4 separate regions of the Homo sapiens genome follow, and all the other regions are linked to region 1. Evidence: fine-mapped expression QTL. A gene starts in region 1. Each other region holds a variant in brackets. All regions are shown on one strand. Distances are from middle to middle. Region 1 holds the start of ZBED3 (zinc finger BED-type containing 3). Region 2 overlaps PDE8B (phosphodiesterase 8B). Region 3 has its middle 23 kb from the start of AGGF1. Region 4 overlaps ZBED3-AS1 (ZBED3 antisense RNA 1).

Evidence for each region. PIP is the estimated chance that this variant, and not a neighbour inherited with it, causes the effect. A credible set is the group of variants that fine-mapping cannot tell apart.
Region 2: its variant is the best candidate, but not a certain one, in a credible set for the expression of ZBED3 in thyroid (GTEx, PIP 0.86).
Region 3: its variant is the best candidate, but not a certain one, in a credible set for the expression of ZBED3 in monocytes (Fairfax 2014, PIP 0.62).
Region 4: its variant is the best candidate, but not a certain one, in a credible set for the expression of ZBED3 in lung (TOPMed, PIP 0.81).

Annotation. Positions count from the first base shown.
Region 1 is chr5:77,084,021-77,092,166 of GRCh38, reverse strand. ZBED3 (zinc finger BED-type containing 3) reads left to right here and starts at 4,882. Exons shown (of 3, transcript NM_032367.4): 1 at 4,882-5,056. It overlaps ZBED3-AS1 (ZBED3 antisense RNA 1), which reads right to left and starts at 5,452. Exons shown (of 3, transcript NR_182763.1): 1 at 4,548-5,452. It also overlaps a transcript of PDE8B not described here. RefSeq lists enhancers at 3,419-4,019, 4,020-4,622, 4,623-5,224 and a silencer at 5,041-5,210.
Region 2 is chr5:77,216,694-77,224,693 of GRCh38, reverse strand. All of the region lies in intron 1 of PDE8B (phosphodiesterase 8B), which reads right to left. Among named protein-coding and RNA genes, the nearest start is that of PDE8B, 10 kb to the right of the region's middle. The variant T/C (reference allele first, on the strand shown) is at 4,695.
Region 3 is chr5:77,003,147-77,011,292 of GRCh38, reverse strand. No RefSeq gene overlaps it. Among named protein-coding and RNA genes, the nearest start is that of AGGF1, 23 kb to the left of the region's middle. The variant G/A (reference allele first, on the strand shown) is at 3,419.
Region 4 is chr5:77,120,073-77,128,218 of GRCh38, reverse strand. The region is part of intron 2 of ZBED3-AS1 (ZBED3 antisense RNA 1); the gene reads right to left. LOC124901008 (a long non-coding RNA gene) reads left to right here. Exons shown (of 3, transcript XR_007058827.1): 3 at 435-511. It also overlaps a transcript of PDE8B not described here. Among named protein-coding and RNA genes, the nearest start is that of ZBED3, 37 kb to the right of the region's middle. The variant C/T (reference allele first, on the strand shown) is at 4,778.

The sequences.
Region 1 (8,146 bases):
TAAATAAAAAATACATCTTGTTAAGATAATAAACATATAATGCCAGGAATCCAAATCCTACTCTTTTTCAAGCCTTGATTAAATGCTGCCACTTTCAAAAATATGTAGCCATTCTCAATTTATTATGGCACTTGAATATTTCCTCTTATATAATTTTTCACTTTCTTCTTAGAGTTGCATATGTCTTACTGTCATACTGGAGTGTAATCCTCTTGAGGGCAGGAATAGTCTCCAGACTCCTGCTTAGGCTTAAGATGGTGCTTTGCCCATAACCAGCACTTACTAAAAACTCCTCTATGAACTAATGAAAATATCATGTATCTCATTACGTGGTCAGTTTAAAGTTAAATGGATTCTTTTAGACACTCAAAGCAATAAAGCTTCTTCTTAAAAGAATTACCAGATACAATAAACTGTAAAAAATTGTTCAAATATTGAAACATGAATTAGAGATGACTTTAACCTGATTTGTTTATACTAGTTACTTTTCTTTTTTATTTATTTATTTTATTTTATTATTATTTTTCAGACAGAGTCTCACTCTGTCGCCCAGTCTGGAGTGCAGTTGCACGATCTCGGCTCGCTGCAACCTCCGCCTCCGGGTTCAAGCAATTCTCCCGCCTCAGGCTCCCAGGTAGCTGGGCTTATAGGGACCCACCACCACACCCGGCTAATTTTTGTATTTTTCTAGTAGAGATGGGGTTTCACCATGTTGGTCAGGCTGGTCTTGAACTCCTGACCTCAGGTGATCCACTCGCCTGGGCCTCCCAAAATGCTGGGATTACAGGCGTGAGCCACTGCACCTGGCCATTTATACTAGTTACTTTTCTTTTTCATTTTTTTATTGATACGAAATATTTGTATGTATTTATGGGGTGCATGGGATATTTTGATGCATGCATACAATGTGTAATGATCGTCAGGGTTATCAGGATACCCATCACCTTGAACATTTATCATTTCTTTGTATTGGGAACATTTTAAATCTTCTCTTCTACTCGACATCACTAATTAGCAGAGAAATTGCAAGTCAAAATGACATCACCTCACACCTGTTAGGATGACTATTATCAAAAAGTCAAAAGACAGCAAGTATTGGTGAAGATTAGAGAAATGGGGATGCTTGTACCCTATTGGTGGAAATGTCAATTGGTGCAGCCATTATTGAAAATAGTATAGAGAGGTTCCTCAAAAAATTAAAAATAGAACTACCATATGATCCACTAATACTACTATTGGGTATATTTCCAAAAGAAATAAAAATACTATCTCCAAGAAGTATCTGCAGTCCCATGTTAATTGCAGCATTATTTACAGAAGCCAAAAGATATGGTAACAATCTAAGTGTCCATCAACTGATGAATAAAAAAAGAAACTGTGGTGTGTATTCACACATACACACACACACACACACGGATATTATTCAGCCTTAAAGAAAAAGGAACTCTTACCATTTGCAACAACATGGATGTCTTAGAGAAGAGTATGCTAAGTGAAATAAGCCAGACACAGAAAGACAAATACTGCATGATCTCATATATATGTGGAATCTTAGAAATTAAAGTCAAACTCATAGAAAAAAAATCTTCTCTTCGGCTGGGTGCGGTGGCTCACGCCTGTAATCCCAGCACTTTGGGAGGTTGAGGCGGGTGTATCACAAGGTCAGGAGATCGAGACCATACTGGCTAACACAGTGAAACCCCGTCTCTACTAAAAATACAAAAAAATTAATGGGTGTGGTGGCGGGCGCCTGTAGTTCCCTTAGTCCCAGCTACTCAGAAGGCTGAGGCAGGAGAATGGCATGAATAAAAACACTAGCTCCACACAAGCTCCCGGGAGGCGGAGCTTGCAGTGAGCCGAGATCGTGCCACTGCACTCCAGCCTGGGCGACAGAGCAAGACTCCGTCTCAAAAAAAAGAAAAAAAGAAAAAAATCTTCTCTTTGGAAATACAGTCACCCTTCCGTGTTATCAAAAACTAGAACTTATTCCATCTTATCTGTTTGCTTGTACCCATTCACCAACCTGTCTTCACTCCCCCACCTCTACACCCTTCTGCTCTCTACCTCCATGAGATCAACTTCTTTAGCTCCCACATATGAGTGTGAACATGTGATTTTTGCCTTTCTGTGTCTGATTTATTTCACTTAACAAGATGGCCTCTAGTTCCCTGCATGTTGCTGCAAATGACAGGATTTCATTCTTTTTTATGGCTGAATAGTGTTCCATTGTGTATATATATCATATTTTCTTTACTGATCTGTTGATAGACTTTGGTTGATTTTGTATCTTGGCTATTGTGAATAGTGTGGCTATAAACGGGAGTACAAGAATCCCTTTGATACACTGATTTCCTTTCCTTTGGATAAATAACCAGTGGTGGAATTGATGGATCATATGATAGTTCTATCTTTAGTTTTCTGAGAAGCCGCCATACTGTTTTCCATAATGGGTGTATGGCTATACATTCCCACCAACAGTGTACTCATTACTTTTCTTTTTATCAGATGTCCGTAGCTGTAAGTGTCCTTTGGGCCAGAAGAAAAGTAGTAACCTAATAGTTGGCCTTCACATTGCAAAATTATCCCTTTGAACAGCAATCCCCAACCTTTTTGGCACCAGGGACTGGTTTCGTGGAAGACAATTTTTCCATGGACAGGGGTGGGGAATAGGTTTGGGATGATTCAAGCGCATCATATTTATTGTGCACTTTATTTCTATTATTATTACATTGTAATATATAATGAAATAGTTATACAACTCACCGTAATGTAGAATCAGTGGGAGCCCTGAGTTTGTTTTCCTGCAATTAGACAGGCCCGTCTGGGGGTGACAGGAGATAGTGACAGATCATCAGGCATTAGATTCTCACAAGGGGCACACAACCTAGATCCCTTGAATGTGCACAGTTCACAATTGTGCTCCTATGAGAATCTAATGCCCCAGCTGATGTGACAGGAGGTGGAGCTCAGGCGGCAATGCTAGTCATGGGGAGCGGATGTAAATACAGATGAAGCTTCCCTCATTTGCTTGCCCCTTACTCAACTCCTGCTGTGCCACCAGGTTCCTAACAGGGTACAAAGGGTACTGGTTCATGGCCCGGGGTTGGGGACCTCTGCCTTTGAAGATACCCAACCAGTTTCTTCCTCCAAAACCATTATTGGAATGGTGGATTGTATTATTGTACCCAGTTATTTCTTGTTCTTCTTTTAAGGATATTATTCAGCTCACTTATTGTTGATAGGGACAGTAGACAGGGAACTACTGGGTAGAATAAGGCCGTTCCCTGGCAAAGGCCCCACCCTCAAGCCTGGAAACCCATGGCCCTAAATGAAGAGAGGCATTCCCGTTCTTGTGCCCAAAAGTTACCTTTTGGCCCTCCATGACCCCCTATCCTGTACCCGTATAAACTCCAGACACCAGGCTCCAGCAGCAAAAGATGAGCAGATGAACAGAAGAGCAGAAGAGCAGAAGAGCCGCAGATAAAGAGAAAAGAGAAGGAATATTGGGTGGAGTTCAGCTGGGGACAGTTAGAGAATCCACCGCTGGACGGTTAAACTCCAGGGGAAGATCATCTCCCTACTCCACCCCCTTTCCAGCTCCCCATCCATCCTACTGAGTGCCACCCCTACCACCTAATAAACACCCCCAACCTTCCCCCAACTCCTCTACCCCCGCCCCCACCCCGGCACTCACCATCCTTCAAGTCCATGTGTGACCTGATTCTTCTGGGAGGTGAGACAAGAGCTGAGATACAGAAACTGTCACACTGACCCTCTGCGCTTGCAAAAAGGCAGAGGGTCTATTGAGCTGGTTAACACTTAAGCCGTCAGCTGATGGTAAGGCTAAAAGAGCACACTGTAACACACGCCCATTTGGGCTCCGGGAATCACGGGATCCTGCCCCTGGACACTGCCGTGGGGCTGGAAGCCCAGCGCCCCAGCTTTTGCACCCTGGCTCCTGCACCCGTCCGTCTGCATGCTCCACCTCCCATAAGGGGTTTCAGCAGGCAGAGACCGAACACACGAGCCACAACCCTGTTGCACGTCCTGCAAAGGGCTGTGGGAGGGCGGGGGCCGGGAGGAAATCAGGGAACTCTCCTGTTTCATTGTCACAAGACTTGCAAGGCTTCCTTAAGAGAGGGGTACACTTCCCCACCCACTGACAGCAAGTTTTGACCAATAGAAAGTGAGCAGAACTGAGGCATGCGGAATGTGAGTTTGGAAAGCAGCTTGTGCCAGTCATGTACAGGAGCTAATTGTTAAATTTCCAGGAACTTGGCAAGCCACTTGTTGGACTGTTTGTAGCTTGAAATCGGCCATTGTGGGAGCATTTACATCATAGAAATAGCAAACACTACATATCTGGACTTCCCCCTTCTCCCTCAAAGTTGGTTTACCAGCCCAGCAGGGAGCATGGCCCAGAAAAGTTGACCTTTCAGCCTGGAGTGAAGAAAACTGGTGGAGTACTGCCAAAGCTCCCTGCAGCCACAGTAATTCGCTTGAGAAATGGACCTTTAAGCCACTGAGTTGCAGGGGTTGTTCGTTACCTGAGCATCATCTAGCCAAAGCTGGTACACCATGCTGGTGTTTTGGTGAACACCAATAAGCGCCGCCTTCATCTGTCCCAACCTAGGTTGGAGGGATTTCTTCCAATAACTTGTGACATCATGCGCCTACAGCCTGCAAAGATGCAAACCGCGCTCTGAGACTCAGGCCCGGGAATTCAGGTCTTGGAAGGTTAATGCAAAGTTGTAAAACAATAGTTACATTTCAACCACACTCAGCTATTGCGTCATCTTAAAACCCTGGCCAACACAAATCTGTCGCTCGCGATCCTTGGCGGTTTCAGAGCGACTCCCCTACCGCTTTCGGGCGAAGGCCACACGTGACGGCCCCCCTTTCCCCGCAGACGTGTGAATGCAGCGCTGTGTCTTTAAGGGGCACGCGCGGAGGTTTTCCGTCCGGGACAAAATGTCAGCGAGGCGCCTGGAGGGGGATCTACCATCTCGGACTCCCGACCCGCCGCCGGCTCCGGCCGCGTTTCCCGGGTAAAGGGGTGAGTGTGGGCTTCCAGACTCGGTGGCGAGGCGGGCTGGGCCGGGCAGCGGGGAGCGCAGGTGAGCAGCGACCGCGGACGCCCCTGCCGGCCTCCCTGGCACCCGCGCGGGGCGTGCCCTTCGCTGGGCTGCCCTTCTCCGGGCCGGCTGTCGCGACTGTGAGAAAGCAGGTGGGCCCGGGATTCTGTGGCAAGGCCCCGCTCACCGTCTTCCAGTGCCTCATTCTTGCTCCTTCCCTGCACTCCTCTTTCGACAAGCTTGTTCGGAATGTGGAAATTCGTCACCACTCTCCTGCTCTCCCTTTATTAAAGTTGTCTGATTACAGTCTTTTCACTGGGCAAGTGACTGGACGCCCTGCAGTGGGTTCTTTCTGTAACTGGGACTTGCTTGATGTCGCCCACTTTCGGAGGGAGAAAGCGAATGCAAGCCAAAAGCTTACACCAGAATCCCCACCCCTCCCCCACCCCTCATGGCCCCCAAACAAAAGAATTTTCCGCTCCTTTCGGAGTCCGCTGGAGCAGTTTCTGTGATTTCTTGCACGAACCAAATGCCCGAGGCTTAGCAAAGCAAAAACCCCCTTGAAGGAAAAAAATAAATACTTACCACTAGTCGAATTTCTAATGAGCCAAGACTACAAAGATAAGGTGTTTAAGAGAAACAGTTGTAGAAACAGCTTAATACATTGACCTAATTAGGGTAATTATTTTCTGCTGTTTTTATTCATATGCTGACACCTTTTGGAGGCAAGAATAGCTTGAGGCAGCCAAGAATAAAAAAAAAAGTAGACAGCAATACGTATTATAAAAAGACCAAAAGCCCAAGCCAGGTAATTCTCAATTTAAAAATTAAATTAAAAAAATCTTTGAGTCACAAAGGCCTTCAAAGTAGGGCAGCTTTAAATTCCTATAACTCAGATTAAATTATGCATTTTTACAAGATAAAATGGATCACCACCTTAATCTTTAGGACCATATCTATTAAGCAAAGTAATGCAGACCTGAAATAAAGGTCCACTTTAAGGGCAGAACACTTCACAATTTTCATTTTTAAAAGTGCATTAATAGAGAGAGAGAGTGCTTCTCTGCCTTTTAGCTAATGGTAGAAATATCTAAGAGTTTGGCTTATGCCATTTAGGAAACAACTCTGATTCACCCCTTAATTACCTGTGAGTCCAGTGTATTTTTTACAGTCCACATATAACCTTTTTCTAAATTTTTACACATTTTACCATTTATTCCCCAACTCAGGTTTTACAGTTTGGAGGCATTTTTACTTGTCTTTTAACTTCAGCTAAGCCTTCAGCCTGGTGATTCCAGACTAATTTTTCTAATTGTCTGGATCTCTTTATAAATAGATTAATATATGGCAGTAAACTAATATTTCAACAGAGATGGACGGATAACAGATGAACTGTGGTTTTCTTGACACTTCAGTTGTCAACTCTAATTACTTGTATTAATTATTATGCTCTGCTTTCATTAAAGTCACTGGTGGATGAAGTAAAAGAAAATGTTTTTAGTGTTTCCACATATGTCTGTGTGAATTTCACGTTAGTGTGAATTTCTCATCTAAGATCCAGGCTCAACCAACATATATTGATTTAAACTCTGCCTGGTCAACCCAACTACAGTAAGTAGCCTTGAGTATAGAAGGACAAATAGAGGTGTAGTTAATCTGCTATGTCCTTTTGAGAACAGTGCCTGGTTCTTTGGCCTTTAGCCTGCCAAATATTTTTTATGTGCACAAGCATAAGTATAAAATAATACAATCAACTTTTGTAGGTGCTTTATAGGATGAGTCTCAATATTATAGTCATACCTTGTGTATATGCCCATGTTTATACAGATTATTCATCCAGGTTTTGATCTCTTCCTTTATTCTTTATATTGGTATTCAGGGACATCATACTGAGGAATCTGGGATTTAATCTGATAGTTCATCAGAAGGATAGAACTTCTTCAGAAATTGAGTCAAATGGAGAGATAATTAATGTGAATTTATTGTCTTCCACAGGCTTAGATTTAAGAACTCCTTCCAAATAATGGATACTCAAATGAAACTCAGCTATAGCAAGTGCAGAGGCATGGTACCAGCAACACTACTCTCTCTCCTTCCTTGAAATATCTAAAATCTACATTTGTCTTTTCAGTTTTTTTCACCCTGAAATTACACTCAAAAATTTCCACTGTTAATTTCATGTTAGCAGTGCTTTTATTTAGCTTCAAGAAACTTTCTTTTAAAATAGGAGCTTGGAAGCCTCGTTATACAACTGAGGAACTGGAACTTCATTAGAGTCGAGTACTAAGGGTAATGTGTTTTGGTGATGGACAACAATGCGTTTGTGCCCTGTGGGGCATGGGAGGGGAAGGGATGCTGAACTGCATGAACTTTTGTGTTAGGGCCCCTAAGACATCAGCTCCCAGGAGCTGCCCATGCCCACCCCTTCCCCAGTGGAGATTATGTGACGGAATTCACCCGAAGGAGTGAGCACTGATTTCACCTTTACCACAGTGTGTTAGTAATCTGTTTTCGCGCTGCTGATAAAGACATACCCAAGACTGGGCAATTTATAAAAGAAAGACGTTTAATGGACTTAAAGTTCCACGTGGCTAGGGAGGCCTAACAGTCATGGCGGAAGGCGGAAGGCGAAAGGCACTTCTTACCTGGCTGCGGCATGAGCTATAATGAGGGTCAAGCGAAAAGGGCTTCTCGTTTATAAAACCATCAGATCTCGTGAGATTTATTCACTAGCACAAGAACAGTATGGGAGAAACCGCGCTCGTGATTCAATTATCTCTCACCAGTTCCATCCCACAACACGTGGGAATTATGGGAGTAGGATTCAGGATGAGATTTGGGTGGGGACACAGCCAAACCATATCACACAGGTATCAGAATTATTGTTGGAAGCATCTCTTTCCCAACCAGACCGTACGCTTCCTGAGGGCAAAGACTATGTGACGTTCCTCTTGGAATGCTTGGCAGAAAGCACGCACCTGACCTTAGCAGGTGCACAATGAGCATTTGAATGAGAGTTGGATGGAGTGAATGGATGTAAGCAAAATACTCATTCATTGGCATCTTTGTGT
Region 2 (8,000 bases), 130 kb before region 1:
AAAAATCTTTAAATGAAAATGTTTATGAGATAGGGAAACTTCAACACTGTCTTGTATTTGATAATATTAACAAATTATTTTAATTTAGGGATTTGCTAATAGTATTGTGGTTGTGTTTTCTAAACAGTCCTTCTCTTTCAGAGTTACATACTGAAATAGTTACAGCTGAAATAAGAGGATGTTTTAGATTTGCTTTAAAAGAATCCCAAAGTATGGGGGAAAGTAGGAGGTATAAATAAAAGAATAGTCTTAATTTGTTACTGTTGAAACTGGGGGATGTACACGTGAGGTTTCACTATCCTATTCTCACTACATTTGTATACATTTGAACTTTTCCATAATAAAAAATGTTAAATTATGAGCCTTCAAAAATCGGCTTGTATATTATTATCAATAATAAGCAATATTTACTGGGTGTTACATTCAAAGCTAGCAATGGTACATATATTGATTATATCATCCTTGCAGTAACTCTATGAGGTCAGAACTTTCACTATCCTTATTTTTCTATCCTTAGACAGAAGAAGTTGAAAATTAAAGAAGCTAAGCCATAGAACCAACAGATGGTACATACAAGACCACAGTACAGCATAGTTCTCTGACATCAGATCCCAAGTGTCCAGTGAGAAAAGCAAGAACCATTTTATATATATTAAGAAGAGATACCGCTGTAGTGAACTGTTTACAAAGGTGTTAGAAGGTATGGATGAACAAAGGGAAGATGGAGGTAGAGCTGGAGAAACTAAAAAGATAAAGCAGTAACATCCAGAGACAATAAACTGTTAACACCCTGGGCTGACACCCGCCAGCCCACACTCATGCTGATCAGCGGAGGGGGCTGGCATCATCACCACTCAGGCAGCACCACTGCCACTTAGCAGGGGCCACTGCTATCGCCTGTTCCTTTCTCTCACATTCCAATTTCCTGCCAGTATCTCCTACCTGTGGAATCTAAGAGGAAACCATCTGGAAAAGTAATGTGGAAGATGCAGCTTGCAGACTTCTAGCCTCATATAATACAAAGGAGAAAATGGGGAAGCAAAAATGGAGCTACAAACTAAGAGACAAAAAACCAACACCACTACTGTGCTATGCTTGTCAAGTTACAATGTCAAATTGTAAATGCTTGACTTAGAACCTTGATGTAAATTTCACTTTCTTCCTCCGTTTTTCCAACATGGTAGCTACTTGTGTGGTCATTATGCACTTGAGATGTGGGTAGTCCCTACTGAGATGCAGTGTAATTGTAAAATACATTCCAGACTTTAAGAACTTAGTTCCAAAAAAAAAGAAAGAATGGGTGGGGGGAGGGGGGAGGGATAGCATTAGGAGATATACCTAATGCTAAATGACGAGTTAATGGGTGCAGCACACCAGCATGGCACATGTATACGTATGTAACTAACCTGCACATTGTGCACATGTACCCTAAAACTTAAAGTATAATAATAATAAAATAAAAAAAGAAAGAATGTAAACTATCTCATTAACAAATTTTATATTGAGTACATGTCAAAATAATATTTTTAATATACTGGTTAAGTGAACATGTACTAAAATTAATTTACCTGCTTATTTTGACTTTTAAAAATGTGATTCATAAAAAATTTTACAATTACATGTGCAGGTTACATCTGGGTCACATTTTATTTCTATTGGGTAATGCTGCTTTAGAGCTTCAACCCAAAGCAAGCCTTATCTGGCAGTCTCTGAACCATAACACCCAAGAGTATTCTCAGCCATCAACTCCACCAGACTTTAGAGTCCTTCTTAATCAGTTCTCTTGGATCCTATTTATGTCTGGCAGCTTTGAGCTCCAGGCTTAGAAAGCCTGACCTTAATTCTGCCTCTGGCCCCTGCCTGTGGCCGTACAGTTGTCTGCTCCTTGGCTTTTCCTTACAGTCTTCAGCTGACTTACCCCTCAGGCTCACAGTTCTTCATGCTCTCCCAGTAGGAGTGTCTCACCTGGAAGAACCCAATTCCCAATCCGTAACTCCTGCCAGCCAGCCGGCACTCAGTCAACACATTGCCTTCCCACAGAAGACGACAATATAGGGCACAAACAATGGAAGCTCCCGAAACGTGGAACTATGTCATATTCTGTTTTTTGAGATGGAGTCTCCACTCTGTCACCCAGGCTGCCTCCCAGATTCAAGTAATCCTCCTGTCTCAGCCTCCTGAGTAACTGGGATTACAGGTGCAAGCCACCACGCCCAGCTAATTTTTGTATTTTTAGGAGAGATGGGGTTTCACCATGTTGGTCAGGATAGTCTCGAACTCCTGACCTCGTGATCCACCCGCCTCAGCCTCCCAAAGTGCTGGGTTTACAGGCATGAGCCACCATGCCCGGCCATCATATTCATTTTTTTTATCACTCCAAACCTAGAGTAGCGCCTTAGTATAAGGCAGAAAATACACACACACGTACTTGAGAACCTAGCGGGTTTACAGGGACTGTACCTCTAGGTTGTACCAATCCTTTTAGAGATGCATTATCCCTACCGTGCAAGGAGAAATCATGCAGCTTCTCCAAAGTCACAAAGTTTGTACAGGGCAGAGCTGGAATTCAAGCTGGAGTCAGTGAGCACCTTTCCTTCACACCAGGTTACCCTTTTGCAGCCACAAAAATTATAGCAAAGGAGCTGCAAGGGGGCCTTGTGAAATGCCTCCTTTCAAAAGCTCCATGATGTTTGGGGCCTTGGCATGACTAGAGAGGGCTAGGTGGACACCAGGATGTGCCTCCACCCCCAGGGTGGTCAGTGGAGTCCCCATCTACAAACAATGAGTTTCGAATAAGGACACACTCAACTTAGCTAGAACTGTTTCTTCAAGAAAAGTGCCTCACCAACTTGAATAAGCTCCCTTCAGTCAAAACTGGGCAGTCTAAGCACAAATAGGTTTAATAACTGCAATGCATCAACACATCAAATACACATAAACCCATAACGATTCATAATGATACTAAGCAAATTAACAGGCAAAGAACTCCTGTCACCTTAGGAGAATGCTAGGGAGTCAACTCTTGAAAAAAGTTTCTTGAGGCATTCCAATGAATACATGAAGACAAAATGATAGCATATCACCATTTTACAACCTCTAATGACTAATGGATATAAGCAATGATCGTTAATAAGAGTTAGCATCACAGAAAAGAGACAACCAAACATCCTACAAAACTTCGCATACTCCGATTTTCTGTTAGCATCACAGAAAAGAGACAACCTCCACCCTACAAAACTTAGTATAATCCAATCAAACCTCTAAATCAAACTACGGTTTCTAGCAAACACAGAAGGCAGGGAAACATGTTAGATGCATCATGGGAATGCAATAAGTAAACTTTAGATTGGGGGAAAATCTACAGGACAAACAACCCAGGTTCCTCAACAAACAAACTGCAAGTATATAGAAAAGAGAGACTGGAAGGGGAAGCTACAGATTAAAAGAGACTTAAGAGGCATAGCAACCTACTGCAATGAGTGGAGTTACTGTTTGGATACCAACAAACAGTAAAAGAATAAGTAGTAAGACAATTAGAAAAGTGTGATTGATATTAAGTTGTCATATTTTTGGTATATAATGGTTTTATGATTTATTTTTAAAAACAGTTCTAGTTAAAAGATACCAACTGAGCTATCTGTAGATGAAACAGAAAATAAGTGCCACAAAGAAGCTCGACACACCCCTTTTTACCTGGAGATAAAATAGGACAGTGAAAACAGGACGGTTGAGCAGATGTAGCTCTGAGTCCCTAGCTGTGTGACCTTGGTCAAGCTACTTGAGCCGCCTGTGCCTCCACTTCCTCCCTAGCAATGTGAGGTTAATAACACCACCTGAGCCCCTCAGCTCCCCAGCACACAATGGATCACTAAAGATAACTACTCCCTAAAGGAACTTCACGAATTCTCCCTCATCTGCTTCATCAGCCTCTAATTAAACCCGCTTCTCCCAAAGGACACCCATACAAAAGAAATGGGAGTTCTAATTCAATTTTATGTTTCTTTCACAGCAATATTGTTTCAACAGTGTAAATATATTCCAGCTACATAATGGGCTAAAACTTTTTTGTGCTAACCTAGAAACCTAAATGCCACATATAACATGTTTCTATATGAAAGTCTTTCCCCAATAACAACTAGGTGCCTTACAAACTAATGTTTGTCATATAGTCTGCATATAAAAGTGAACACTGCCTTTCACGTTCATCCAAAGCATTTCCTGGTTGTGTTTTAGGATTCAAAGTTCTCACCTTTGATATAATAAGAGATTCCAACCTTTTGCCCCACCTCCTTGTCCCTTCTTGAAAATCTCAACAAAGTCTGCAAAACTCCCCTCTACCACTGCCCGTAGGGAGATCAGGCTAAGTGGATCACACTCCCTTGCCCTCACCTGTTCCTCCCAAGGGATGAAGGCTCCACAGTCAGTCAGCCAGTCCCAGGGTTTGACAGTCCTAATGGGCCAGATCACTGCAGAGAACAGCCTGGGTGTCAGAGACCTCACCCTGGGCTCCACATGTGACTGAGAAGAAGGGCAGGGCAGCAACCACAAGGACAGGAGGACCTGCAAGAGTCTACTGGGTGAGGAGGGGTCCTGAAACTGGCTTCACAGACCCAGCATTATAGATGTGGGAGGGGGAGAGCAGGAAGTCTCCTGAAAACTTACCCGCCTAGGTGTTCTGTCCCAGCAACACTTCC[T/C]AGAGCAGGTGTGTGCACGTGCATGCATGTGTGTGTCTGAGGCTGCACATGACAGATGGATCTGGGATGAAAGGTTGTATCCACCCAATGCTTGCACAGGCACAGACTAAGCTGATCCTTGCTCCCTTCAGTCTTTATTTGGCCATCCTTCTTTTGAGCATCACACTCTCGACTGTGGGGGAAAGAGACTTCTAGTTCCAACTAAGGCTCAGCTCCAAACACTATTGGTGGCTTTTGTTTCCTTGCAGAGACCCCATTTCTCGGCCAAGACTGTCAATCCATTTTTTAAGCTGAAAATGAGTATGTCCCACAAGGCCCCAGGACCACTAGTGGCTGAGGTGTGGATTGTTGGGTCATCACTGGCCTTCATAAATGTATTTGTCTCTCCATTTGGTCATTGCTCTCGTTTGAAGCTCCCTCAGCAGGAACCCTGGAGTGGACAAAAGCTCTGGCTATCCTGAACCCTTGTCATCACCTTCCAGTTCCGGAGCTTTAATGCTATTTGTGGTTCTGACGTCAGAACGGCATCTTTTTCTTCATATGGTACCCTGGGTGATAGGTTGCTTTAAAATCTCTCATGCATCTTCCTATAAAAATTTCCAAAATTTAGGGTCTTATCTCAGTTTTATGACTCACACAGGCAACTGGGTCCCTGGAGCTAATCATTACATCTTCCTATTTGAGAGAAAACAGGTTTTAGATGTACAGTGTATCATTTTCCCAACAATATACTGTGTCTGACAGCACCCAAAACGCAGCAATATGAAAACCAACCGAGCTCATGCAAAATGCTTCTAAGAGCAATTAGAGACTGAGGCTTCAGGCTACAAGTTTATACCAAAGAATTCCACAGGGAACCACCTCAGGATAACACCAAGGCCTTGACCTGTAAATTCTGCTGAGTGCAGGCTCAACAGTCATGGAACCCAAACCCCAGCTTGGGCCTTGGACTGGCAAGATTCTACTATGTCATCTCTGGAAATCCAAGTGAAGCAGACAAAACCCATGTCTGTGGCAGCAGTTTGCAAGGCTTTGGGATAACCTATCTGTCTATAAATCCAGTTAGTCATCTATTGGCCAAATCAATGTACTTGAAAGTGTCGGATATATTTTCCATTAAAAAAATTACATGTTTCAAAAATATCTAAATCTAAATAACCAAAATCTCATTTTGATTACCCAAAGAGTAATAATAGCAACCATAAAAATAAGAGCAGCTACTATTTGTACAGCACTTACAAAGTGTCAGGCACTGTGTTCAGTGAAAATAATGACAACATGTTGTACCAGAGCTTGTCACATTTTGTGTGCATTTTTTAATTCTTCTCCAACTTCAAAACACTCTAGTTCAAGTTAATAGAAGGGGTGACAGTGGATATGTGAAAGGAAAAATCTCACTCACGAGGCTCCCTGCTCCCCTTCCCTCTGCCTGTTTATCATCCTTCTGCTCTAAATAACTGCAGTTCCAGGACCAGCCACACTTAGGGCTTCAGGCTGTGTGGCCACAGGCCTGAGTGTGCAACACACTTAAGGGATGGGCTCATGGGGTGAGAGACCATTCGGACCCTCTTGCCTTCAAACTTCAGTCCTCGCCTTGGGAAATTTATCCCACCTCTTGCAGCCCCATTTTCCTCTTTTCTAAAGTGAAAATAATAACGTGTAGCTCATAGCAGAACAGGGAAAATCATGCAGATTTGGTGAAACAATGTAAATAAAGTGCTCAGCAAATAGCAAGAACTTAAATAACAACTAATATTATTATAGCTATCCTGTTTACCTTGTTGCAAAGTGTACAAACCATGCACTAAAACTTAAATCGCCTTGGAAACAAGAGACAACCATGAAATATTCTTATTTTCATTGATGGATTATCCAAAAGCAAAATAGTTCCTTGATTTTTATTACAGCAATCACAAGCTTCTTAAAGCAAATTTGCAGCAGGGTAGGCTAATCCTACTTCAGGAACTACTTTTCTGTGCATTCTCCCTAAGGAGGGGGAAAGGAGGGGATGAAAGAAATCAATGGTAAAGAGTAAAACAGAAAAATCCTAAATAAGAGTTGACTATTATCTGCTGATGGAAGAAAAAAAGAGACTAGGGAAGGAGCCATGAACAACTAATTTTAAACTAATATATACTACAACTTGTTGAAAAGTAGTGTTTTGGGCCAAGCATGGTGGTTCACGCCTGTAATCCCAGCACTTTGGGGGCCAAGGCAGGTGGATAACTTGAGCTCAGGAGTTTGAGACCAGCCTGGGTAACGTGGCGAGACCCCATCTCTACAGAAAATACCAAAAAATTAGCCGAGGGTGGTGGCACCACCTGCAGTCCCAGCTACTCGGGAGGCTGAGGCAGGAGGATAGCTTCAGCCTGGGAGGCGGAGGTTGCAGTTAGCTGAGATCACACCATTGCACTCCAGCCTGGTGACAGAGTGAGACCTCATCTCAAAAAAAAAAAAAATTGGTGTTTTCTACTAAAACATAACTACCAAGACTTCCACTGTAGGGTAAAGGTAACACCTATCTTTAAAAATAAATTCCTGGACACATTTTAATATTTTTAAATATGTTCTAAATGTACACATTCTTTATTGAAAATATAACCTTACAAGCACATAGCAAAATCCTTTTTTTTTTCACTTTTTGAGTCTGTGGAGAGAAGGTTATAGAAAGTGGGAAAGTAAAAACTGAGAAAAAAAATGGAATAAACTGATAAGACAGGGTCCTGAGTCTCTTATGAGGCTCAGGTCTTTCTCCCCCATTCCACCCTTGGGCTTTGAGTTCAGGATAGGGAGAAGGACAGCAGGCAGGGGACAGAGGAAGTGATAAAAAAAGTGTATCAGCAGTCAGGGGACAGAATGAACTGAAGAGAAGGATATGTTTACAGCAATAAGTTCGAGGTCTCCAACCAAGATAACTGGACATATTTTAATATCATTAGTCATCAAACAGGAACTGTAAACAGTGAATTAAGTGGCCATTTTAAAATGCCATTATTTTAGACAATCATCAAACTGCCCATCACAATTTTAGTTTATCTATACCGAGGTAGCTCCAGTGACACTGAACATCTCTTATTGCCTGTTACGAAGAGCCTTTGGGATATGCTCAGGATATTTTTCATTTGCCCCTCCAGACCCACTCTCCACCCTGCTCAGCACCCTGGAAAACCCCAATCAACAGATTCCTTTTCCCTCTGGTTTCCAGATGTGGAAACCAGCAGGAGCTTGATGAAAGGGAGGACAATGTCATGAAGGGACTTACTGCTTTGGCTCCCTCCCTGTCCACTCCTGAAGGCTACAGCTTCT
Region 3 (8,146 bases), 81 kb after region 1:
CTTGATTGTAATAGTAGTTACATGAATCTATACATGGGATGAAATGCCATAGAATTATGTAAAACCCTACCCTTGCTCCCGAAAGAAGAGTGTGTGCAAAAACTGGTGAAATTTGAGTATGAACTGAGTCTAGTTAATTGCATTGTGCCAATCAATTTCCTGGTTTTGATAGTGAACTGTAGTTATGGAAGATGTCACCATTGGGGTAAGCTAGGTGGTGGATACCTGGTACCTCACTATACTGTTCTTGCAACTTCTTATGAATCTACAATTATTTCAAAATAAAAAGTTAAAAGAAAACGCTTTGACACCAATATTATTTTGCCCATGAGGAAATTGAGGCTTGGTGAGAGGTTAAGTAACCTGCCTAAGGTCACTCAGCTAGTAAGTGACAGTGTGATTCTAACCCAGAGCCAACCTCCCATCAACATAGATTATATTATTCAACATAATCTTTAAATAAAATATATGGGATGTGTCCAGGTTCCAATATGATCTGAAAAGTATGTAAATAAATTCAATTATACGATGGTGCTTGAAAGTTAAAACTGCAGCATACTTAAAACTTAGTATAGAAATTGTGACCGGTCTGTATCAAGAAACAATGAGATGATGGCACTCCATTTTATAGGTTTCTTTCAGCAATGAATTGTAAAATGTCAACACTTTCCTTTTTACTATTGAAATACCAGAGATCAGATTAATGGTTATATAAAGGTTTTATTCATTTACCAAGAAAAATTTTAGATCTGAGTCATAAATAACAGACAATGCACTTATTTTGTACAATTTAATCCTCTCTAATGGCAAAAAAAAATCTGGCGACACATTTCCAGAATTCTAATTCCATTGTAAGTAGATGAATCATAGCACTTTGTATGACATACTTGTTAAAAAGCGTTTTCACTTCATTTAGTCTTAATTGCAGTGGCGATACGCAGTGCTGAATCGATTGAGTACTCATATCTGATCTCAAGGTCTATAAAATGTCAGAAACACATAGTAATCAGAGATCTAGTACTTTTTCTTTAACATATTATATGTCTATAGAATTAAATTCATAAATACAATCTTTACAGTTTTATTATCCACTTCATTTCATTTTCCAAATGTTCTCAGTTACTTTTACCCTTGGCTATTTCTTTTATTTGGTTTAGTGTGACATGGTCTTATAGAACTTCTGATAATTTGGTATCATAGGCATAAATAATCCAGGATGCCTGGGATACATTTTAGTGCGACTGTACTCTGACTGGATTAACGGACAGGAAGAGACTGAGATGTCCTCAGCATGTGGTTGCCATATTTCTCATTTCCTTACCCTTAACTGTCTTTACAGAGCAGGTTTTTCTGTAACAAGTAGGAAGATGGTGGCCCAGTGCGGATAAGGGCACACCGATTGTAACTGATGGTGGCCCAATGTGGATAAGGGCACATTGCACCTTCACCTTAGCCTGCAGTGATGAAAACCAGCAGTTTGGTTTCATCAGCCAATGACCACAGGTATAGCTTTTAGAATTGGTTTTTAGTTTATCTATGTAAAATGCTACACAAATTATCTGATTATCATTTTCAAAGAGAAAAAAAGGAAAGAAAGGCTAGTCTGAACTCATTAATATTTTTGAGCATTCTAATTAATAAACTTCTGTGTTACAAGTTTACCTTCATTTTTGGTCTTATTCACTGTGATGATGGCAGTTTCATAAGTGTTTCTTTACAGTTGACCTGGAGTTTGAAGATACCAAGAAACTTCTATAGACAATGGATTCTACTCAACTACTAGGTGTCTTAGAATGTGCTTGATCATTTAAGTTTCTAGTATATTCTCAGATATATATTACTTATTAAGAGAATTAGAGTCGATGAATAAGTAGAATTTTAAAAATTATATTCCATATAATTTTATTAGGGATACAGTAAAGATTCTATGTAACCAGGTACCAGGTAACTCTTCCACATCATGATGAAATTAGGGGTTGCTATAACCACTTAGGATAGTGTACATTCCTTTGATGAGTGGCCTCAAGCTAACAAGATAGTAGAAGTCAAGAAACAAGACCTCGATTGGCTTTGTAAAGACAAATATTGGGAAGTTATGCATGTGTGTATTAGTCCATTTTCACACTGCTGTAAAGAGATCCCAAGACTGGGAAGAAAAAGAGGCTTAATGGACTTGCAGTTCCGCATAGCTGGGGAGGCCTCGCAATCATGGCAGAAGGCAAGGAGAAGCAAGTCACATCTTTTTTTTTTTTTTTTGAGATGGAGTCTTGCTCTGTTGCTAGGCTGGAGTCGGCTTGCTGCAAACTCCGCCTCCTGGGTTCAAGCAATTCTCCTGCCTCAGCCTCCTGAGTAGCTGGGATTATAGGCACGTGCCACCACGCCCAGCTAATTTCTGTATTTTTAGTAGAGATGAGGTTTCACCATGTTGGCCAGGATGGTCTCTATCTCTTGACCTCATGATCTGCCTGCCTCGGCCTCCCAAAGTGCTGGGATTACAGGCAAGTCACATCTTATGTGGATGGCAGCAAGCAAAGAGAGAGCGATTGTGCAGGGGAACTCCTCTTTTTAAAACCATCAGATCTCATGAGATGTATTCACTATTGCAAGAACAGCACGAGAAAGATCTGCCCATGATTCAATTACCTGCCCCATGATTCAATTACCTCCCCATGATTCAATTACCTGCCCCATGATTCAATTACCTGCCCCATGATTCAATCACCTCCCCATGATTCAATTACCTACCACTGGGTTCCTCCCACGACACATGGGAATTTTGGAAGTTACACTTCACCATGAGATTTGGGTGGGGACACAGCCAAACCATATGAATGTTAAAAAAGAAGATCCCATGAGTTGATACTATAGGAATCTGAAAGTTAACAATTCAGTTGCCATTATTCACTCAAAAATCCTCAGCAAATATTTATTGTCTGTCTAGTAGGTGCACAGAACTTTGCTATGTCCTGAGGGAGATTCAAATACAAGTAACAGATTCTCTACTGTCAAGGAGCTTAATTTTTGTTATCATAGAGGCACACGTCTAAACAATCAAAATTAACCCAAAGGCAAAATGCTGTAGGAAAAGCACAAACAAGGTGCTGTGGGAAGAAGGAGGAAGAAGTCAGTGACTCCTGACAAGATGCTGACAATCACAAAACAGAGGACCAGAATGAGAAGGTGACCCAGTCACCAGTTAGGAGGCACTTGGAGGCGGCCTTCAGTGCCACACCCAAACCAAGCCAAAGGTCTCTGATGCCAGAGCTAAGTCCCATCTTCTACTTGTATCAATTACCAACTACAAGCTGAGACTCTTGAACAGTCTTCAGTGTAAACAAATTGAAACAAACAAGAGTTCGTGCTGATGTCTGGTATTGAGTGTTCATCAGGCAGTATATGTACATGTTGTCATTTGATG[G/A]ATGAAATACATTTCTTGTCATTGGAACCAATATACCCAGCAGAATTCCCAGCGTATTGCAAGCAGCCAGGCAAGGCCAGCAGACAAGCTGAAAAAATGTGTGGAAGACAATTTAGGAGAAATAGAGCCTGGGCACCCATTTTAGGGAAGCAGAAAATGAAACTTTTTCTTTCTGGGGACTCCATCTGGGCTGAGCTGTTTAGGTGTCCAATGGACTAAGACACAGAGGCAGTGAAAATGGGAGACAGTGGCTATGACTGTGGAGGAGGCATGCATCTCATCACCAAATTACACTGCAGATATCCAGCAATGGACCAGTTGTTACTTAGCAGCACACTCTGCATTCTCTCTCCTGCTTATCGGTTTCATATAGAGATAAACGTTTTCTGCTCAATTTCAGACCCTGTTGCAAATTTTCCTCTGTCCTGGAGTGCAATCACATGGTTAAAAAGAGGATGCAAATGGAATCAATAATTACCAAAATCATTAAAGTCCAAAGGATCTTGATAATGAATGTTCTCTTACAAATAAGCAGCTACAGGGATTAGCAGATGGATGTATCAGAATCTTAAGAATATTATAAGAACATCAAATAATAATCTCATCCTTGTCTCACTCCATGCTTACATTATTGTTCATCTTACTTTCCTTGATTAAGAGGCTCAAGAATGCTTTTCATCATTTTTCCAGTGCTAAATATATACCTATTTTGCAGCAAAACATAAGGACTGAAATCATTTTCTGATATGTAATACCGAGTAGGATGCCAATTGTAGCAACTTATCAAAGGTTGAATTTTCCAATTCCAAGGAATAAAATTAAATGTAATAAAGGTGTGAACAAAGGAGTAGCTAAGCACTGTGAGTGCAGCACCCCTCAGGGTTTATCCTACTTTTCAAGCCCTCACAATAAACCTGTCCATTCTGCTTAGCAAGCAGGCTGATCTCTTTCCCGAGCTGGTAAGAAAGTGTTACCTTGCTGTTTATCTGTAGTAACATATAACTCTTTTGCAACTGGAGATAGCTCATTCATTTCTATTACAGCTTACCTTGCCACTAAAATATGCACAGAAATGACTTTCTTTATGCAGTGATGTTTTCTTGGGGAAGGTTATTTGACAATAGGATTGTTTCCTCACTGAGTTGCATTATAATTTCATCAATGAGTTCAATGATCTTTTTCTAATGGCAATAATTTGATTTTTAAATTTTTAAATTTTAAAATGTTCTAGTATTAAACTGCTTATTTAGGGTGGATCATATGTGTGTATGCAATTTTTCCAATTATTACGAAGTACCCAAAAAAATGTAAAATGTGGTCTCTGTTCCTCCAATAGCCTGAAATCTAATTATGGAAGCAAGACATACAGACTTTAAACAATTGACAAAGTAGGAAAACAGTGATTGAGTGCAGACAATACCCTCAAAGGAAGGGATGGGAGTAATCTGGAAGAAATAGGTCTTCAGCTGGACTTGACTGACAGAGAATATTTAAGTAGGTGAAAGGGAATGAGGAGGGCATTTCGGGCAGTAGGCCAGCCTGGGAACATATCTGGAACCACTACTGGGCCTGGCTTAGAGGTGGGAGGATTGTTTGGCAAATAGAAACACTGGGCATGTACACATGTAGTGATTTACCCATATGTTAGTTTTCTATTGCTGCTATAACTAATTACCACAAATTTAATGGCTTAAAACAACACAAAGCACAACAACATGGCACATGTATACATATGTAACAAACTGCACGTTGTGCACATGTACCCTAAAACTTGAAGTATAATAAAAACAAATAAATAATTAATTAATTAAAAAATAAAAAATAAAAAACAACACAAAGGTATTCTCTTACAGTTGTGTAGGTTAGAAGTCTAACACGAGTCTCACTGGACTACAGTCAAGGTGTTGATAGGGCTGTGTTCCTTTCTGAAGACTCTAGGGCACAATTTATTTCCTTGCCTTTTCCATTTATTTGCTTGTGGCCTCTTTCTTCATCTTCAAAGCTAGCAACGTTGCATCTCTCTGACCTTTCTTTCAGAGTCACATCTCCTCTCTCTACAACCTGGAGAGCTTCTCTGTTTTTAAGGACTCATGTGATTACATGAGGCTTACCAGGATAATTCCAGAGACTCTTCCCATCCCAAGGTTCTTAACTTTAATCACATCTGAAACATTCTTTTTGCCACATAAGGTACCATATTTAACATTGCAAGGATTAGTATGTGGACTTTTTTTGGAGGGAGAACATTATTCTGCCTACTACCTCATTTGCAAAATGTTTTTATAAGTGATATCATGGAGAGAACTCGGAAGTTGATAAGAAAGGTAGATGATAAAAGGCTTTGAATGTTATGATGGGATTAAATGCCATCCACACTGGGCAGCCCTTGAGTGTGAACAAGAAAGAGATATAATGATATCAGTGCTTTAAGATGATCTGTATGAAATTAATGCACGGGTTGGATTGAAGTGAAAGCGATAAGCTACTCTAAGGAGAGCAATTAGCAGGTTATTGCTATAATTCTAAGTTTGGGTGTAAGAACCCAGACTAAAGCCATAATGGGAATTAGAGAAAAATTTGGGAAGAAGATTCAAGAAACTTAGAAACTAATTAACTTACAGGGGATGAAGAAAAGGGATGGACATTATATTAATTCTTTCTCTCCTCTCCTGTCAGGTAGGCAATGATCAGCAAACTGGTACTTTAGACCAGTAGAAAAGCCATTGCTTTAAAGGATCTTGCAGTGAAAATTTTTGCAAAGACAAAAAGCTTTTAAAAATCTCACATACTAGCATATTATGATATGAATAATATGCTAGTATATAAGTCAATTTTATGCACAAAACACACATACTTGAGAATAAGTAGCACATTAAAATAATAGTTTTTCTGTGTAGCCAGTGCAACTCTAAAAACAACCTTTTGTAAAAGTCATTGAGAAAGTTTGGGTTTCCATGAAAGAAAGGTTTAAAAAAGTTTCATTTTCCAGAAAGCTAAACCCTATTATAAGCTTCCTTGGAAAGTGTTTCCAGTGAAAAAGAGAGAGAAGGGAGAGGTTAATAACTTTGGGAAATGAGGCTCCCTAATTGTCCACTTTCAGTTAACTCATAGAGCAGTCTTCCTTGGTTGGGGCACATGGTTCGGGAAATATCTGTGTGACCTCAAATACAGGGGTCTGCCCAAGACCCAGGCAGCCCTGTTCATCAGGAGCCCGTACTGGAGCCAATCATCCTATCAAATTTGGCCCTACTGACTCAGGATTCAGGTTACTTCATTTCATCTTCACCAACAGAAAAGCTAGAATTCAAGCTAAAGGTACGGTAGCCAAAAAGATGTGAACAGAGCAGAAAAGGGCAAAGTTATGCCAGACAGGATGCAGATGCTTGTGTGTGTGTGTGTGTGTGTGTGTGTGTATGTGTGATGCATATGCATGTATATGTATATGTGTGTGTATTTGTATCTTTGTATGTGATATTTATATGTATATATGTGTGTATATTTACATGTATGTGTGCTTGTATCTTTGCACCATGTTTCTGTTATAAAACACTGAATGATGCTTGATTAAAGTAACAATACAATACTTTAAATTGCTGCTTTTCTTAAAAGTCTATGACTACATTAGCATAGATTCAAAAAATTTGGGGATGTTTTTTACATTATATGAATTTTTAAGTAGTTATCCATTCAATAACTACTAATCACAGGCTTTACCAATTTGCTGTGGAACAATATAAGGAACTTCACTTATTATCAGTTTATTTCTGGCAGGTAATATTAATGCCTCAGAAGACTTTCACAGATATTTAAGTCATCAGCAATATAGATTGAGGCCAGGTGCGGTGGCTCATGCCTGTAATCCCAGCACTTTGGGAGGCTGAGGAGGGAGGATGGCTTGAGCCCAGGAGTTCCAGACCAGTCTGGGCAATGTAGTGAGACCCTGTCTCTACAAAAATTACAAAATATCTATGTATATAGAGAGAGAGTGAAAAAAGCAAGTTGTAGAATATGTAGAGTATGATTGTGTTTTTGTAAAATAAAAAAGCTATACAAGTGAACGTGTGTGCATTGATCTCTGGAGAGAAAGAACTGACTCAGGCAGGGAGAGTATGGACCCTACACTTTTTCTTTATAATGGTTTATACCATTTAACTTATATACAGAGAGAGTATGTTTATATGTGTGTTATTTTTCTAAATGATTTTTTAGTCTAAAAAAAGAGAAAAAGAGTTGTTGTATTGTAAACATTATTTGCAATTGTTCAAAATAAACTTTTCTAGATATGTGTAATTAAGTAGTCAAGACCAACAGAGTGATGCTGTCTGTGTTATTGTCCAGTCAGGCTGACCACAAGAGTCAAGGCTTCATATCTGCCTCCTCATATCTAGTGTTCTATAAATAGTAGGCAACCCACAATACTTCAAATCGCTGCTTTATCAGGATATGCCCTCCACAAGTATCAGAGTATGCTCCTCAGGCAGTATGGCTGAATAATCACATGAATCTCACCCCACAAAGCTGATCTTTGAATTAACTGTAAGTACTTCATATTAACTCAGCCCAATAAGTATATTAAAACTAATTGTTCACCAGGAATATAAATGCTTAAAGTGTGTGTAATTTCCAAGAAGTTGTACTAGCCAAATCCAATAAATATGACTTGATCTGAAATTTGGCAAAATTCCTAAGTGAAGATATACAAAGCTATGACTGTTTGATGATAGCATC
Region 4 (8,146 bases), 36 kb before region 1:
TCTCACCTGTGGTGGATTGGGATGAGGTACAGGTGGAAGGGAGAGGCTCTGGGTCAAGTGGTAACTATGGTCCTTGGACAATATGGAGGCAATTATAATTGTAAAGGAATGGGGAATTCACTGGCTTTTGTTAACTGCTTTGAAAGTCTCAAAATAAGAAAATGACAGGGTCATGTTAGACAACTATCAACTCAAGCCCACGGTGAAATAGAGCAATGGTTAAAAGAATTTGATCTCCTGCAGGCACAGGGAATACTGTCTTGAAGATTAAGACAACAGTTGACAAAGTCATAGAGGAGACAGAACGCCAAGCCTTCACAGATCTCCTATTTCAAAGTTAGAACCCTGATAGGAAAAGCTTAAAATCTTAAGAGCTGGGATAGGATAGACAAGTCTGAGAATATTGAGTCACTAGATTAATTTTCATCCTCTAGGAGAGCAAAGTCAGCCTTCTTCTCCTTGCTGGGGACATCAGCCTCATCTTGCCAGGAGACCCTGAAAATACCTCACCTGAATCTTGCTTTGCAAAGTGATGTCTGTCTTCCTCAAGGTCTCCTTCCATCTCCAATTAACTGACTCCATGATAACTGGAGTCAGGTTTTGGCTCAAGCAGGTGGGGAAATGTATCCCTGCTGCAGTAGGAAATAGTTTACTAAAGAAACTGAAGGACCTGGGGTATTAGACTGTTCTCACACTGCTATAAAGAAATACCTAAGACTGGGTAATTTATAAAAGAAAGAGGTTTAACTGACTCACAGTTCTGCATAGCTGCAGAGGCCTCAGGAAACTTACAATCATGGTGGAAGGCAAAGAGGAAGCAAAGACCTTCACAGGGTGGCGGGAGTGAGAAGTGTAAGCAGGGGAAATGCTGGATGCTTATAAAATCATCAGATCTCGTGAGAACCCACTCATTATCACGAGAACAGCATGGGGGAAACCTCCCCCATAATCCAGTCACCTCCCTCCCTCAACACATGGGGATTACAGGCCCCACCCTCAGCACATGGGGATTACAATTCGAGATGAGATTTGGGTGGGGACACAGAGCCAAACCATTCACCTGGGTAATGTATACAGGCAGGAACCTGGATAAGCTTGTGAAAGTGGATCTTGAGGATGTTGCACTAGGGTGGGTGAGTGGAATAGAAAGCTGGATAATGGTGAATTTATTGACCTGGGAGCACCCTTCCTTGATCAGAAAACTCAGTGTCCTGGCAAGGATACCTGTAGCAATACACTGCAAGAGTGATTTCTTGAGGCTTGGACAAAATAGTGGCCTATAATAAATAAAGTCCAGAAGCTGCAACTTGCCTGGACTGGAGCTTGCCATAGCACTAAGGAAGGAGTCAGAAAGCTCAGGGATGTGAAAATATTAAAGATATTTATTTTTTCTTTTGATTATGTATTTATGACAGATTTCAGAAAGTTTTCATCAGGAATTCATAGAAGCAAAATGTAATTAAATTTCTACAAGCATTTATCTTCTTAAAAGTTTGTAGGGCCGGGTGCTGTGGCTCACGCCTGTAATCCCAACATTTTTGGAGGCCAAGGCAGATAGGATTGCTCGAGCTCAGGAGTTCAATACCACCTAGGTAACATGGAGAGACCCTGACAACAAATTTTAAAAGAGCCAGGCATGGTGGCACACACCTGTAGTCCCAGCTACTCGGGAGGCTGAGGTGGGAGAATCACCTGAGCCCAGGAGACTAAGGCTGCAATGAGCTGTGATTGTGCCACTGCACTCCAGCCTGGGTGACAGAAAGAGACCCTGTCTCAAAAAAAATAAAGTTTGTAGGAAACACAGATAGATCTCACTTTTCAAAACTGAATTCCATCAAGCTCTTCAATTTTTGTCATCCTCCTCAAATGACGTATATTGGCAAATAAGGCACAATTTATTCTTGAACAGTAGTAACTAACTTTTTTTTTTTTTTGAGAAAGAGCCTTGCTCTGTCGCCCAGGCTGGAATGTAGTGGCACAAACTCAGTTCACTGCAGCCTCCACCTCCCAGTTCAAGCTATTCTTCTGCCTCAGCCTCCTGAGTAGCTGGGACTAAAGGTGCCCACCACCACACCTGGCTAATTTTTTGTAGTTTTAGTAGAGACGGGGTTTCACCGTGTTAGCCAGGATGGTCTCGATCTCCTGACCTCGTGATCCGCCCACCTCAGCCTCCCAAAGTGCTAGGATTACAGGCGTGAGCCACTGAGCCCGGCTGTAACTAACTTTTAAGAGATTTAATTTTATTGTGGTAAAATATACAGAACATAAAATTTGCCATTTTAAGTGTACAGTTGAGTGGCACTAAGTATATTCTCACTGTCATGCAACCATTCCCACCATCCATCTCCAGAATTTTTTTTATCACCCTAAACTGAAACTCTGTTCTCATTAAACAATAACTTCCCAATCTACTATTCCCCCAGACCCTGGAAACCTCTATTTTACTTTCTGTCTCCATGAATTTGTTTGTTGTAAGTACTTCATATTAATGGAATCATACAATATTTTTCCTTTTGTGGTTAGTTTAGTTAGCATAATGTTTTCAAGGTTCATCCTTGAAAGGATGATGTAGGAGATACCCAAATTTCTTGTCTTTAAAAAGATGAATAATATTCCATTGTATGTGTATACATCCATTCGTCTGTTTTGACATTTGAATTGTTTATGCCTTTTGGCTTTTGCAAATTAACACTTCCGTGGACGTTGGTGTACAAGTATCTATTTGAGTCTCTGCTTTTAATTCTTTGGGGGCATATACTTAGGAGTGGAATTGCTAAATCATATGGTAATTCTCTGTTTAACTTTTTGAAGAACCACCAAACTGCTTTCCATTGCAGCTGCACAATTTTATATTCCCACCAGCAATGCACAAGAGTTCCAATTTCTCTACATTCTTGCCAACAACTGTTATTTTCCTTTTTAAAGAAAACAGTGGGGCGTGGTAATCCAAGCACTTTGGGAGGCCAAGGCGGGGGAATCATTTGAGGCCAGGAGTTTGAGACCAGCCTGGACAACATAGAAAGAATGTATCCCTACAAAAAAAAATTAAAATAAAAGAATTTAGCTGGCATGGCGGTGCATGCCTGTAGTCCCAGCTACCCCAGAGGCTGAGGTGGAAGAATCACTGAAGCCAGCCCAGGAGTTTGAGGCTGCAGTGAGCTATGAGTGCCACTGCATTCCAGCTTGGGTGACAGAGCAAGACCCTGTCTCTTTTTCCTCAAAAGTGAAACAAAACAACGTGAAAATCCTAACAGGTGTGAAGAATTTAGAAATTTCTTTTACTATTAATTCTTCAAACATTTTTCTCCCTCCTTTTTCCTTTCCTTCTTTTACTTCAGATGCACACATGATATTGTTCTCCAGCTCACTGATGTGCTGTTTCTCCATCTTTTCTCTGTGCTTCACTTTGGGTAGCTTCTTTTCCTGTGTCATTATGTTCACTGTTCTTTTCTTCTGCAGTGTCTAATCTGCTATTATATCTATCCAGTGTATTTTCAATTTTGGATGTTGTATTTTTATCACTAAAAGCTTGAGTTTAGTCCTTTATAAATCTTCTATTTCTTATAACTTTCACGTCCTTTCATCTCTTTATATAAGAAACATATTTCTTTCTTTCTTTCTTTTTTTTTTTTTGAGACAGTGTCTCACTCTGTCACCCAGGCTGGAGTGAGTGGCACAATCTCAGCTCACTACAGCCTCAACCTCCTCAGCTCAGGCGATCCTCCCATCATAGCCTCCCAAGTAGCTGGGATACAGGTGTGCACCACCACACATGAATAATTTTTTGTATTTTGTGTAGAGATGGATTTTCACATTGCCCAGGATGGTCTTGAGCTCCTGGGCTCAAGCAATCCACCCGCCTCAGCCTCCCAGAGAGCTGGTATTACAGGTGTGAACCACCAGGCCTAGCCAACATATTTCCAATAGCTATATTAACCTTCTTGTCTGATAATTCCATAGTCTCTGTTGTTTCTGGGTCTGAGTCTTGTGACCAATTTTTCTCTTGACTGTTCTTCATATTTTCTTTTTCTTCATATGTCTATTAATTTCAGATTAGATTCTAGATATTGTAAAGTTTACATTGTTGGGTGCTGAAATTCTGTATTTCTTTGAAGAGTGTTGAATCTTTTCTGTTGGACTTTTACTTGCAGATTAGTTTGATCCTTTTGAGGTATGTTCTAGGCTCTTTTAGCGTGTTCTAGAGTAGCATTTATTTGAGAAATAATTTAGCCCCACTTCAAACTGTTGCCTTTCCAGGATTTTTACTGAATGTCGTGTGTATTCACCAAGGTCTGTTTACTCTGACTAGAGGGAACTCAAATGATTCCCAGCTCTGTGTGAACTCTGGTTATTGGTTATTTGTCTCACAGCTTACACAGAACTATTCTTTCCTTGAAAGTTGTTCTTGTCCAGTCCTATGGGATTTCATCCTATTCCTGACTAGTTTGGTGTTCAGGCAAAGAATCAAGAGTCTCACCGTTGCCCAGGCTGGAGTGCAGTGGCACCATCATGGTTCACTGCAACCTCTGCCTCCCCAGGCTCAGGGGATCCTCCCCCTCAACCTCCCAAGTAGCTGGGACCACAGGTGTGCACCACCACACCCAGCTAATTTTTTGTATTTTTTGTAGAGACAGGATGTCGCCATGTTACCCAGGCTGGTCTCAAATTCCTGGGCTCAAGCGATCTACCCACCTCAGCCTCCCAAAGTGCTGGGATTACAGGTGTGAGCCACTGCACCCAGCCAAAGATTTCTTGAGAGCTCTCCTCTCAAGTAATG[C/T]TATGGTTTGAGTGTTTGTCCCCTCTGAAACTCATGTTGAAACTTAATCCCCACTGTAACAATATTAAGCGGGGGGCGGTGGGGGAGGAATTCAACTATAGTATTTGAGAGGCGGCACCTTTGGATGTCATTAGAATGAGATAAAGTCACGAGTGTGGGACATGAGTGGCTTCGTGAGGAGCTAAGCTAGCATGCTTAGCTCCTTCTCTATGCCCTACACCACCTCGGGACTCTGCAGAGATTGCCTACCAATAGGAAGGCCCTCCAGATGCACCCCCTCAACCTTGGACTTTCAGCCTTCAGAACTGTGAGAAATAGATTTCTCTTCATGATAAACTAAGTAGTCTCAGGTATTTGGTTATAACAACAGAAAATGGACTTAGACAGGTGCTCTGCCTTATAAATCATAGCTACCTTGGTCTTCTTGAACTATAATCTCTGTTCAATTCAATGACAACACTTTGTATAATTTCATCTCCCTGAATCACAATCTTGGAGCTACCTGCAGGCAGAAAGCCTACACCAGGGTGTATTTTGCCCCTTTCGTTTCCTTTTCATGGGGATCACAATCTCGTTGGACTCTTACCCAATGTCTTAAAATAGTTTTTTTCCTACATTTTGTTTAGTTTTCTAGTTGCTTACTTTCAAAATGTAATTGCAGGCTGGCTTACTCCTTCATGATTGAAAGCAGAAGTTTTTGAAAAGGATTTTTAGTGTCAGCTCAGGCTCAGGTAGAACGACCTGTTGGTAATGACACTGTCCTCCAAAATATTGTATATATGTGCTAAAACAATAGCTGATACATGGTGTTATGTTCCCAGTGTCTAGCAACATTGGTCCAGGAAACATGAGGTAGAAGTAGGATTGCCCCCCTCACCATCACTTCTCATGATCCACTTAAAAGTGTTGTGCATTTCCCATCAAATGAGCCTAGGTTCTGCTGAATTAATTGTCCCACTTTCAGGTGGGTGAATGTACGCACTAGCAGAAATGATAGCGCTTCCATTCACCTTAAAGTGTGATTATTGTTTTTGAATTTTGGGTTCCTCATGGCAGTAGACCAGCAAGAAAAAAGAGGTGTTCCTATGCTGAAAAGAGTAATCGACTCTGATTACCATGAAGAGCTAAGGCTGCTGTTACATTATGTGTGCAGGAAGGACTGTGTCTAGGACATAGAAGATTCACAGGGACATCTATTGATGATTCCATGACTGGTGATGGTGGATGGGCAATCGCAGTGATCATGACTTTACAAGGTCAACTAAAGGCTCAGACCCCTCAGAGGTAAAGTTTTGAGTCAGCCATCAGGAAAGCAACCTACATCAGCCAAATAATTGGCTAAGGTTAAGGGAAATCTAGAGCAAATGGTGGAAAATGGAGATGACAAGTACTATTTATGGATTTGGAACCTGTTGCATCAGCAGGGAATGTAACTTGTTCTATTCACCTTCCTGTATTTAGTGTTTGTAGGATTTGGAGCTAGCCACTCTCTAGAAGAAGACTCTGGGCAGACTGGACTTAATGCAGAGCACAAAAGTCCTAAGAAGTGCAAAGGTGAAACGTAATGGAAATCTGTTGTGGTTTCCAAACATGTTCTCAACTTCTTTGATGTTCCTTCCTTCAAAAAGTGAAGCTAGGCTGGAAGCGGTAGCTCACACCTGTAATCCTAGCATTCTGGGAGGCCGAGGCGGGTGGATCACGAGGTCAGGAGTTCAAGACCAGCCTGGCCAATATGGTGAAACCCCGTCTCTACTAAAAATACAAAAATTAGCTGGGCGTGGTGGCGCACGCCTGTAGTCCCAGCTACTCGGGAGGCTGAGGCAGAAGAATTGCTTGAACCCGGGAGGCGGAGGTTGCAGTGAGCCAAGATTGTGCCACTGCACTCCAGCCTGGGCAACAGAGCGAGACTCTGTCTCAAAAAAAAAAAAAAAAGGAAGCCTAATTCCCTTCTCCTTGAGTGTGAAATGTACCTAGTGATTCACTTCTAAATAATAAAAGGTGGTGGAAGTGACAGCGGGTGATTTCCAAAACCAGGTCATAAAAGACATTGTGACTTTTTCCTCCCCCCATAATCACTCACTCTGGGGGATGCCATGTGCCATGTTACAAGGACACTCAGCAGACCTACTGTGAGGCCCATGTGGCAGGGACACTGGAGCCTCCTGCCAAGGGCCATGTAATGCACCACCTTGCAAGTGGATCTTTCAGCCCCAATCAAGTTTTCCGATGAATGCAGCCTTGGCTTGAAATATTGAATATAATGTCATGGCAGACCCTGAGCTAGAACCAGCCAGCTAAGTGACTCCTGAATTCCTGACCCACAGGAATTGTGGAGAATAGCTGTTCGTTTGTTGTAAGACACTAAGTTTGGAGGGTAATCTGTTAAGCAGCAATGAGTAACTAACACAATACTTCTGGAGCACTTTCCATCCTCTTGTTTGACTCTTGGTTCTGCATAGGCTTTGACCAGCTACACACAGGTGCAATCTGAAGCATGCCACATCAGCCCATGCATGCTGTGTACTCTAGCTCCCTACCCTGGGAATTCTCTAAGGTGCAGGGCACCTGCAAGAGGGCTTTAAGCACTGACACAAGGAGAAAGAAGCCAACAGATAAATGTTTTCCCTTCCACCACCCAGGTGTTAGGTTCTGAAGTAGATTTCAGAAAACTCCTCAACGGTCCTGACAGGCTTGTACAACAGTTGCTCAGTTGTAGCCAATGTGATCATGTGTTTTTGTTTTTACCTCACTTTTTATTATAAAAATGTTCAAGCATACAGAGAAGTTGAAAGAATGCTACAGTCAAAACCCATATATCCCTATCTAGATTGTACAACTAATATCTTATTCTATTTCTTTTATCATACGTATATCCATTTATCTATTATTCTATCCATCTACTAATCTATTTTATTTTTAATGCATTTCAAAGTACTTTTCAGATAACAGTATAATTCACCCTTAACACTTCAGCATGCATATCATTAACTAAACTTCAGTATTCATTTATGATGTCTTTCTTTTAAGGCAAAATTTATATTCAATAAAATGAACACTTGTAAGTGTACCATTCAGTAAGTTTTGAAAAGTACATTGACATGTGTAACCCAAACTCCTTTGAAGATGTAGAGGAACATTCCCTCATGCCTGCTCTCTGTCAACTCCTACTTGTACGCCCACATCTGCACAGATCACTATTTTGATTTTTCTTCATTGCAGATTAGTTCTGCCTATTCTAGAACTTTAAATAGGAAAATACCATATTATTTTGCGTAAGGCTTTTTTCACCCAGCATGCTTTAATATTTACCCATATTATTATATCAATACTCTATTCCTTTTTATGGCTGGGCAATATTCCATTGCATGA